3 linked regions of the Homo sapiens genome follow. The protein of the gene in region 1 interacts with the protein of each later gene in a pairwise test. Each region holds a gene or a part of one and is shown in the gene's direction. Other genes may lie near its edges.

Region 1 (3,829 bases):
AGTGGGGGGCAGTGTGCCATGCTCCCTGTAGGGAGTGGACAGTGGCACCCCAGAGATGTCCACCTCCTAATCCTGGAACCTGTGAGTATGTTGCCTTGGTAGTCCCCTATGGTAAAAGGGACTTTGCAGATATGATTAAGGATCTTGAGATGGGGAGGTGATCTTGGAATATCTGGGTGGGCCCAGGGTCATCCCGTGAGTCCTTACAAGTGAAAGAGGGAGGCAGAAGGCTCAGAGTCAGAGGGAGAGTTGAATATGCATTGCTGCTAGCTTTGAGGGTAAAAGTGGCTAGGAGCCAAGAAATGCAGGAGATCTCTGGAAGCTGGAAAAGGCAAGGAAACAACCATCCCCCAGAATCTCCAGAAGGAATGCAGCCCTGCCGACACATTCATTTTAACCCGGTGTGATGTATTTTGGACTTCTGACCTCCAGAACTGCAAGATACTAAATACGTGTTGTTTTAAGCCACCAGATTGTAGTAATTTGTTACAGCAGCAAACTATAGCGATGAATACATTCTGCTGATGTCTTTGTTTCCTATCCCTATTTCTCGCTCTAGGTTTACATTTTAAAACTGTTTCCATCTAGGCCGCGCGCTGTGGCTCGCGTCTGTAATTCCAGCACTTTGAGAGGCCAAGGCAGGAGGATCACTTGAGGTCAGGACTTCGAGACCAGCCTGGCCAACATGGTGAAACCCTGTCTCTACTGAAAATACAAAAATTAGCTGAGCATGGTGGCATGCACCTGTAATCCCAGCTACTCAGGAGGTTGAGATTAGAGGATTGCTTGAACCCAGGTGGTGGAGGTTGCAGTGAGCCAAGATCATGCCACTGCACTCTAGCCTGGGTGACATAGCGAGACTCTGTCTCAAAAATAAAAAAAATAAAATTAAAAAACTATTTTCTTTTTTTTTAGCGTTAAATCGAAAGTTCCCTAGTTAATTCCCACAATTAGGAGGGGCCCACCAGTTCCACAAATAGGAAATCTCTGCACTGCTCTTGCTCGTAAAGTGTATTTGCTTTTTCATAAATTGCTTATGTTCTTTGAGCCACCAATGGTTTAATGTCAGAATAATATAGATCATTAGAGCCTCTCAAGATCCCACAAGGAACTGCACTTTCTCCTGTAGTTAACCATCCAGTCATCCATGCAAGAAATATTTATTGGATGCTACCATGTATCAGGCACTGAGCCAGTATTGAGATGTGAAGACACAGTGCATAATCTAAGCCTTTACAGAGGCCACAGATGTTGGGTTTTTATGGCTTGAGAACAACATACATTGTTTCTTTCCAGGAAGCTAATTGGGGTACATGGAGCCACTTTGACTAAGTAGCAAGGAACAGGAACTGCACACTGGTTCCATCTTGGCTTCCAATTTGTATTCAGACCCAGGCAAGAGTTAAAGAGTTCGATGATAGATAAGCACAGATGCAAAACAGTACAGTCCAGTGCCTCTTTGCTTAGGCTAATATCTGCCCTCTCTTTATCCTCTCCAGCCCTGCCTTCCTGCCTTTGACGCAGGGAGCTAAGGGTCTGAATGAACCCTGTTGGAGGTTGCAATTAAATCTTTGTGGACAAAGGCACACACACACACACATACACAGAATCCTCAGATAACAGGAGGCAATAAATCCAACAGCACATCCACGTTCAGAGAACAGTGTCCCTGCTGTCTTGCTAACAGCTGCCAATACCTCACTGAGTGCCTCACACCAACATGGGCTCCAAGGTAAGATTTTTCTCTCTCCGGACAAATTTAATCTTTCCTTGTGATTTGTGTCTCTGTCAGAGGATTTTGACTGTTAAGTAAAGTTTACTATTGATTTGTTGGCAAATTCCTGGTTTTGTTTGTTTTTGTTTTGGGATTTGGGTGTGTGTGTTTCTCTCTCTTTGTAGTACTTACTTCACTCACTATGTTTTTTAATTTTCCATGGCTTGTCTTTTATTCTTATCCATACATATCCTAAGTCAATTTGTATTCAGAAATACCTCCTTTATATAGAGAAATGAAGGATCTTAAGTAATTGCATGCATTTACTGGTTAAAACTTAACTGAGAATTTGGTTCACTTAGGACCTTGGTCACGTTAATATGTAGTAGTGAGAGGGTTCTTCCAGCCCTGGGCTTAGAACAGAGTACCTCAGTGTTTGGGGTACTCCCAACACCTGAGGCTGACTATTGAATTTCAGTGATAATCATTTAAAATTATTTACTTCTTTAATTACAAAAGTAGCTCATTATTGAATATTTAGAAATACACAGAAGATAACTGAAGTCATTGATTATAAATAACTGGCATTTGAGTATCTCTCTACTCTCTCAAAAATGTGCCCATATATTTATATTTAGACAATTGAGATAAAGTTGAAAACACAGTTTAATTTCCCTTTTTTACTTAACGTTATAGTAATAGTATTTTCTGTATCATTAAAATTATTTGAAAATATAATTTTTAAGAGCCGCTTAATAATCCACCATTAACATGTTTGACTTTTTTCACTAAGAAAAATAATTCTGCAATTGATCATTTTGAGTATAAGTCTTTGGCTGCATCTCTGACCTTTTTTCTTTTGTAGGATGGGTTCCTTGTAGTAGAGTTACTAAGTCAAAGAGTATACAATTTTTAGGGCCTGATAGATTTCATGATGGTAATCTATTTTAAAATTTAAATGAGTGATATTGTTGATACCACAACAGAAGCCACGTCAAAGAAAATGAAATTCTCCCCAGAAACTCTTATTACTTGAAGTTTGACAAGGTACTGTGACTTAATGCTGACTAATGATATGAAATCCTGAATAGAGAACTAATCATGAAAGTCAATATTTTATTTTCACAGATGAAGGCATCTTTCTGATCAGGGGTTTGTAGCTCAAACAAAAGAATGAGCGTGCTTCTAGAACCACAGAGCAAGGGAACATGGTAGAGGATAAGCTGGCAAGTTGAAAAGCGTGGGATTTCATCCCAGTTTGACACTAACTGTGCAACCCCAAACAAATCTCCTAACCTTCAGAGGCTCGGATTTCTTGTCTATGAGATGAAGGTTGGTCTACATCAGTGTTTCTCAGTGGGCAGCCCAAGTGACACTGTGCCACATGAAATATTTTGGGGTAGCACCTAGAACAAAGGTCATACTTTTTTTGCATGCCACATAAAATAACTTTTTGAAACATGATATCAATATCTATGTTGGTTTTAAAAATTTTTTGAGAGTTAGGGGTCTTGCTATGTAGTCCAGGCTGGACTCAAACTCCTGGGCTCAAGATATCCTCCCACCTCAGCCTCCCAAGTAACTGAGACTCCAGGCACATCCCACCATACCTGGCAGTATCTCAATATTTTAAAAGAGTGGATCTAGAGGAAAAAGATGAAGTAAATGATAGTACAGGTAGTCCTTAGATATGACATAAACCATCAAGGTGATAGGCAAATAAATGTCGGATGTTTGAAAAACACAGGGTTAAGTGATCTGTAGAGCATCTATTTTTATCTGGATTTATACCTAGCCATTAAATTCAAGGGAAATTAATGGCTAGATATAAATCCAGACATAAATAGCTAGTAAGCGATGCTTACCAGGAAGGCATTCTGGGAACCAGGTAGAGTTATTGAGATTTATAAGAAGTGAACAGTGATACAGACATGGAGATGTTTCCAAATATCATCCTACTACTTGCAACCCTTTGCACTTTTCGTTTTAATAGTGAGTTTCCTTCGTCTGGGCAGACTCCCTCCCCTCTTCCATAAAGGCTGCAGGAGACCTGTAGCTGTCACAGGACCTTCCCTAAGAGCCCGCAGGGGAAGACTGCCCCAGTCCGGCCATCAC
Region 2 (3,729 bases), on another chromosome or scaffold:
GCTCACACCTGTAATCCCAGAACTTTGGAAGGCCGAGGTGGGCAGATCACTTAAGGTCACAAGTTCGAGACCAGCCTGACAAACATGGTGAAACCCCATCTCTACTAAAAATACAAAATTAGCAGGGCATGGTGGCGCTTGCCTATAATCCCAGCTACTCGGGAGGCTGAGGTGGGAGAATCGCTTGAACCTGGGATGTTGAGGTTGCAGTGAGCCGAGATCGTGCCACGGCACTCCAGCCTGGCTGACAGAGCGAGACTCTGTCTCAAAAAATATATATACATACAAAATTAGCCGTGCATGGTGGCGCTTGCCTGTAATCCCAGCTACTCCGGTGGCTGAGACAGGAGAATTGCTTAAACCCAGAAGGTCGAGGTTGCAGTGAGCCGAGATCACACCATTGCACTCCATCCTGGGCAACAGAGTGAGAATCTGTCTCAAAAAAAAAAAAAAGAAAGAAGGAAAGGACAGAGGGAGGCCTAGGCCTGGAGGTCCTTACCCCTCCCCCTCAGTAGCCCCTTCTCTGCCCCCTCTCCTCTGCCCCCTATCCTCTCCCCTGCAGTGGCTGAAGGACCCGGGGCCGCGGACGGAGAAGCGGACACTGTGCTGCGACATGGTGTGTTTCCTGTTCATCACACCGCTGGCCGCCATCTCAGGCTGGTTGTGCCTGCGCGGGGCCCAGGACCACCTCCGGCTCCACAGCCAGCTGGAGGCCGTGGGTCTCATTGCCCTCACCATCGCCCTCTTCACCATCTATGTCCTCTGGACGCTGGTGAGTGGCTGTGGTTGTGCAGCACGCGTCTCGAGCTCTGCCGCTGGGAGCAGCAGGGCCAAGGATTTGGCCCCTGGCTTGTGGGGCACGGGGCTCCCTGGCTGCCTCTGTCTATGGCCGTGGGTGGAAGAGAGCTTCTGAGGTCACCCTGCCTCTCCAGGAGCTTGAGATTCCAAATGTGACAAAGGTCTAGGGAATCCCTGAGCCAGGTGTGAACCTTGACCTGAGTGCAGGAACCCCCATCCATGAACCCCCAAGATTAGGAGTGGGGCAGAGAGGAGCAAAAGCCTGAGAGAGAGATCGGGGGAGAACAAGATAGTGGGGAAATATATATTGATTAAGAAATTGAGGCTGGGCATGGTGGCTCACGCCTGTAATCCCAGCACTTTGGGAGGCCAAGGTGGGTGGATCACCTGAGGTAGGGAGTTCAAGACCAGCCTAACCAGCATGAAGAAACCCCATCTCTACTAAAAATACAAATTAACCAGGTGTGGTGGCACATGCTTCTAATCCCAGCTACTTGGGAGGCTGAGGCAGGAGAATTGCTTGAACTCGGGAGGCGGAGGTTGCAGTAAGCCTAGATCATGCCATTGCACTCTAGCCTGTGTAAAAAGAGCGAAACTCGATCTCAAAAAAAAAAAAAAAAAAAAAAGGAAAAAAGAAAAAAGAAAGAAATTGAAAGGGAAAACCCAGGCACAGTGGCTTACTCCTTTAATCCCAGCACTTTGGGAGGCCAAGGCAGGTGGATCATCTGAGCCCAGGAGTTCAAGACCAGCCTGGCCAACATGGTGAAACCTTGTCTCTACTAAAAATACAAAAATTTAGCTGTGCGTGGTGGTGGGTGCCTGTAATCCCAGCTACTCGGGAGGCTGAGGCAGGAGAATCACGTGAACCCGGGAGGCAGAGGTTGCAGAGAGCCGATATTGCGCCACTGCACTCCAGCCTGGGCGACAAGAGCAAAACTCTGTCTCAATAAAAATAAAAACAAAAATAAATTGAAAGAGGAAAGCCAGGTGCGGTGGCTCATGCCTGTAATCCCCATACTTTGGGAGGCTGAGGCAGGCGGATTCCTTGAGGTCAGGAGTTTGAGACCAGCCTGGCCAACATGGTGAAACCCCATCTCTACTAAAAATACAAAAAATTAACCTGGTGTGGTGGCATGTGCCTGTCATCCCAGCTACTAGGGAAGTTGAGGCAGGAGCATCGCTTAAACCCAGAAGCCAGAGGTTGCAATGAGCTGAGATCCTGCTACTGTACTCCAGCCTGGGCGACAGAGTGAGATTCTGTCTTTAAAAAAAGAAAAAGAAAGAAAGAAAAGAAAAGAAAAATTGAAGGGGAAGAGAGAGAGGAACTGAGATGAAAACACTGAGTGAGGCCAGGCCCAGTGGTTGTAACATCTGCAGTCCTAGCACACTGGGAGGCTGAGGCAGGAAGATTGCTTGAAGCAAGAAGGTTCAAGACCAGGACGGGGCAACAAAGCCAGATGCCCATCTCTATAAAAAATTTAAAAATTAGTGGTGGTGTGCACTTACACTCTCAGCTACTCTGGAGGCCAAGGTGGGAAGATCTCTTGAGGTTAGGAGTTTTAGACTAGCAGGGCAACTTAGGGAGACCCCATCTCTACAAAAGGAAAATAATTAGCTGGGCATGTTGGCTCACACCTGTAATCCCAATATTTTAGGAGGCCGAGGTGGGAAAATCCCTTGAGGCCAGGAGTTCAAGACCAGCCTGGGCAACATAGAAAGACCCCGTGGCTACAAAAAATTTTAAAAAATTAGCTGGGCATGGTGGCACATGCCTGTAGTCCCAGCTACCTGGGAGGCTGAGTCAGGAGGATCACTTGAGCCCAAGAATTTGAGGCTGCAGTGAGCTGTGATCACACTACTATACTCCACCCTGGGTGACAAAGCAAGACCCAGTATCAAAAAAAGATAAAAAGCCTGGGTGCAGTGCTTCTGCCTGTAATCCCAGTATTTTGGGAGGCTGCAGCAGGAGGATCACCATAGCCCATGAGTTCAAGATCAGCCTGGGCAAGATGGTGAGACCCCATCTCAAAAAATAATAATAGGGGCTGGGCATGGTGACTCACGCCTGTAATCCCAGCACTTTAGGAGGTTGAGGCAGGCAGATTGCTTGAGCTTACGAGTTTGAGACCAGCCTGGGCAAAGTGGCAAAACCCCATCTCTAGAAAAAATACAAAAGTTTGTCGGCCGTGGTGGTGCGTGCCTGCAGTCTCAGCTACTCCGGAGGGTGAGGTGGAGGATCGCTTGAGCACTGGAGGCAGAGGTTGCAGTGAGCCGAGATTGCACCACTGAACTTCAGCCTGGGTGATAGAGCCTGACCTTGTCTCGAAGAAAATAATAATATTAATAAAAGAAAAAGGAAAAAAAAAAGGCTGGGTGCAGTGGCTCATGCCTGTAATCCCAGCACTTTGGGAGGCTGAGGGGGGCATATCACTTGAGGTCAGGAGTTCAAGACCAGCCTGAGAAACATGGTGAAACCCCGTTTCTACTAAAAATACAAAAAATTGGCCAGGCACGGTGGCTCACGCCTGTAATTCCAGCACTTTGGGAGGCTGAGGCGGGTGGATCACGAGGTCAGGAGTTCAAGACCAGCCTGACTAACATGGTGAAACCGTGTCTCTACTAAAAATACAAAATTAGCTGTGTGTGGTGGCACATGCCTGTAATCCCAGCTACTCAAGAGGCTGAGGCAGGAGAATCGATTGAACCTGGGAGGCAGATGTTGCAGTGAGCTGAGATTGCACCATTGCACTCCAACCTGGGCAACAGAGCAAGACTCCGTCTCAAAAAAAAAAAAAAAAAAGAAAAGAAAAGAAAAGAAAAATTAGCCAGGTGTGGTGGCACATGCCAGTAATCCTAGCTACTCGGGAGGCTGAGGCACAAGAATCACTTGAATTTGGGAGGTGGAAGTTACAGTGAGCCAAGATCGTGCCA
Region 3 (3,500 bases), on another chromosome or scaffold:
GAGCTTTCCAGGGGCAGTGACAGGTGGGGCTGTCCGGAGGAGGGCCATCAGCAGATAATCATATCGCAGTGTGATCAGGGCTTTAATTAATGATGCAGAGAGGGCTTCTGGAGAGTCCTTTGTCATTAAATCCTCCTGATTGGATACACAGGGTTTGTATGCAGTTATCCTGTCACTCGCTCACATTGTCAAGAGTGTTCATTTCACAAGCCTTGTCTACTTGGCAATTTCCTGTTTATTTTTCAGGACTCACTTGAGATACCCTCTCCTTGCTGAAGTTTTTCTTGACTTCTCCAGGTAGTATTACTTATTTTCTTTTCTGTGCTCTTCTACAGCTCTCGTATGTTCTTCTATTATGGCAGTTTGCTTATTCACTGTAACTTCATAGACTGAGAGTTCCTTGAGGGCAGAGCTTTATTTACCAATATAGCTCCCTAGCACCCAGCAGACACTTGGAGAAAGCTTCATTTGAACAAGTTGTTAGGCCAATCATATAGCATCAAAACTTTCCTGGATTTATGTGGCAGGTTACTTGGGAAATCTTTACTTGTTCATTCATTGAAGTTCTACTCTGTGCTGGTGAACAACGGAGATCAGTCCTTACCCTCCCAGATTCTATACTCCAGTTTTACATCTCATACGCCACACAGACTAGAAGGCCCTTTTACATTAAAGAGAGAAACATGATTATGGGAACTTCTCATTGGAACATCCCAGATCAGACTGTGGTGACATTGGAAGGTTTGGCTGCAGGGCTGAGGCAAGGAAAGGGACAGAGAATGCCCATGCGATAGTGCAGCCACCCAAGATGGGGAGCCAAAAATGGTCAGGAGTCAGGTCATAGGCCAAGAGGTGGTAGAGGCAATCTTCAAGAGGTAAGGAAGTGCTGGCTGATGGTGACATTAGGGACCAACTTTGGCACAAAGGGCAACAGCATCTTACTTTTCTCCCTCTGGCCTAAGTGCCAAGAATTCCCAACCTCTTCGCTTCTGGCCACCCATTAAAAGTTGGCAGCAGGAGAAGGAATTTTTTTTTTTCTTTTTTTTCAGACAGAGTCTCACTCTGTTGCCCAAGCTGGAGGACAGTGGTGCAATCTCGGCTCATTGCAACCTCCACCTCCCGGGTTCAAGTGATTCTCATACCTCAGCCTCCCGAGTAGCTGGGATTACAGGAATGCATCATCATGCCTGGCTAATTTTTCTGTATTTTTGGTAGAGATGGGGTTTTGCCATGTTGGCCAGGCTGGCCTCTAACTCCTGGCCTCAAGTGATCTGCCCACCTCAGCCTCCCAAAGTGCTGGGATTACAGGCATGAGTCACCATGCCTACCTGAGAAGGGAATTTTCTAGTCTTCATATTCTTCCCTAGTCTTGACATTGATTTGGAACAGACAGCTAGAAAGAGGAGAGAAAAACAGAGTATATATTTATGAATATAAAATCTTGAGTGCTTGCTCTGTGGGCCCGTTTGTCCCTACCTTTATTTAGCGTTTCAGAACCCAAGTTGATGGTTACTAAAAGGCTGATCAGGGCTTTAGGTTCTTTCATGCCAGCAAATTACAGCATCTGGCTTTCTCCAGCCACTTTTCACAGATATTTTGTTGGCAATGTTTCTCTTTTCTTGAGCCAGTAGACTTGGGCAGTTAGCCCTTGCCTTAGCCTCACCTTCGTGGTATCATCAAACGCTGACATCTGAATGTGGTATTGTCCTGTTGATGTCTCCAGGAAGGCCTAGCTCATTCTCCCAAGTGGAAGGCTATGCATTAGGAACTTATTCTCCACCATATTCCTTAGTCTTCCCTGGATTTAACTCTATCTCCAGCCCCTCTTTCCAAGTTTCCCTGTCTTGCAAATCCCCAGGTAGGTATACCAACAGTTGCCTCAAATTCATTACATTCCAAGCTATACTCATCCCCCACTACAACCAGATCCTCCTCATGTTTTCCTGTCTCAGGGAATGGCACCATCATTTATACTGTCCCTGACTGCAGAGTAGGTTAGATTCTTTATTACACCCTCGCCTGGCAAGTTAAGATTATAATTAAATAAATAATATTTTCTGTATTTGTTTGCCCTGTTGCTTCTCTTGGTAGACTGGTTCCTTGACAGTTGGGACCATGTCTGTCTTGTTCATCACTGTCCCCAGTACCTGGCACATGGGTCCTCAATATTTGTTGGATTAATTAAGAAATCCATCCAGTCACCCAAGATAGAAACCTCAGCATCAAGGTAGATTGTAGATTCCCCCCACTCACCTTCCACATAGTATCAGTCAGCAAGACCTGTCTTTTCTATCTCTGAAGTATTTTTCATCTCTGTCCTGTTGTTACCATACCCAGTGTTCAGGACCGATCATTTCATATTTGAACTGCAGCAGTAACATGATGGCTTTCTCCACTTCTTTTCTTTTTCTCCTTCCAATTCATCCTATACACAGCCACAGGGGTCTTTGAAAATTTATAATTCTGACCACGCCTTTAACTATGTCACTTCCCTACTTAGAAACTTTTTTTTTTTGGCCCCCTATTGCCCAAATAACAAAATTGAAACCCCCTGCATTGCCACAATCTATCCCTGATTTATTTGTCCTGCCTCATATCCTGCCATTATCTCCTGTATAACCTTACATTTCAATTACCACGGTTTTCCAGGTCCCAGATCTTTAAGTCCCTCCATATCCACTCTTATCTTTTCTCCTCTAGTGCTTAACACAGTGCTGTCACGGAGAAGAGAAAGAGAGAAGGATGGGCAAAGGTAGCTTTAGGATCTGGCTTGGAAAGGGTCACTGGGTTTCCAAGCAAATAGAAGAAAACTTTTTAAAGCATCATCTTTCTTCCAACACTAAGCTCTACTTTTAGCATCAAAATTAGACTCAAGCCTCAAGATTTAGGGAATTGGTGGCAGCAGACTGCTCCGGTGTTGGGAGTTATATCTCTAAACATACATGAATATCCTTTTCTACAATGTAGCTCTTTCCTGTCGGGGTGGGGGGGTGCTTTATCTTGAAAGTTTCCCGTTTTGTTTTTCAGTTCTCTTTTGTTTTTTGGAGCATGGTTCTTTGGGAAGTGGCATCCACTGCAGGAAAGCAGAATGAGCAGAGCCAGCAGAACTGATGGAGTGGCACAAATTCCCAGTGTCTGGATGGTGCCACACTGGCGCCTAATCACCCGTTTAACAAGCAGAAATTAAATGTTGCTCAGCACATGTGTCTTTCAGCTCTTCCTTTTCACCCATGGATGATCATTGCGAGCATGCGCTGATTGGACTGAAATGCCAGGGAATAGGTTAGGCATGCTCAGTGCCGTCCCTTTGCCACCACAGTCAAATGACATGCTTCACTGTGGTACCTTAATACCTGAAATAGAACCATGGAAAATTCTGATGTCCTCTCTCTGAATTATGTACAGACTACCTGGGGGATCCTCTTCTCTCCAAATGTTAGCCATCCTGAAGTAGCCGAACAGTAGAAACTTTGGTGGGGATTAACCGGGAGCTTGAAAAT

Evidence for each region.
Region 2: the proteins of SLC18A1 (region 1) and MARCHF2 interact in a two-hybrid assay, tested with the Homo sapiens proteins (one large-scale study listed by BioGRID).
Region 3: the proteins of SLC18A1 (region 1) and YIPF1 interact in a two-hybrid assay, tested with the Homo sapiens proteins (one large-scale study listed by BioGRID).

The regions. Positions count from the first base shown.
Region 1 is NC_000008.11:20,180,966-20,184,794, reverse strand, and holds the start of SLC18A1 (chromaffin granule amine transporter), read left to right. Parts: upstream 1-1,658; 5' UTR 1,659-1,732; intron 1,733-2,842; exon of another isoform or gene 2,843-3,046; intron 3,047-3,707; 5' UTR 3,708-3,829.
Region 2 is NC_000019.10:8,430,096-8,433,824, forward strand, and holds part of MARCHF2 (E3 ubiquitin-protein ligase MARCHF2), read left to right. Parts: intron 1-562; coding exon 563-772; intron 773-3,729. UniProt on the Homo sapiens protein: E3 ubiquitin-protein ligase that may mediate ubiquitination of TFRC and CD86, and promote their subsequent endocytosis and sorting to lysosomes via multivesicular bodies.
Region 3 is NC_000001.11:53,851,798-53,855,297, reverse strand, and holds part of YIPF1 (protein YIPF1), read left to right. Parts: intron 1-246; exon of another isoform or gene 247-297; intron 298-3,027; 3' UTR 3,028-3,500.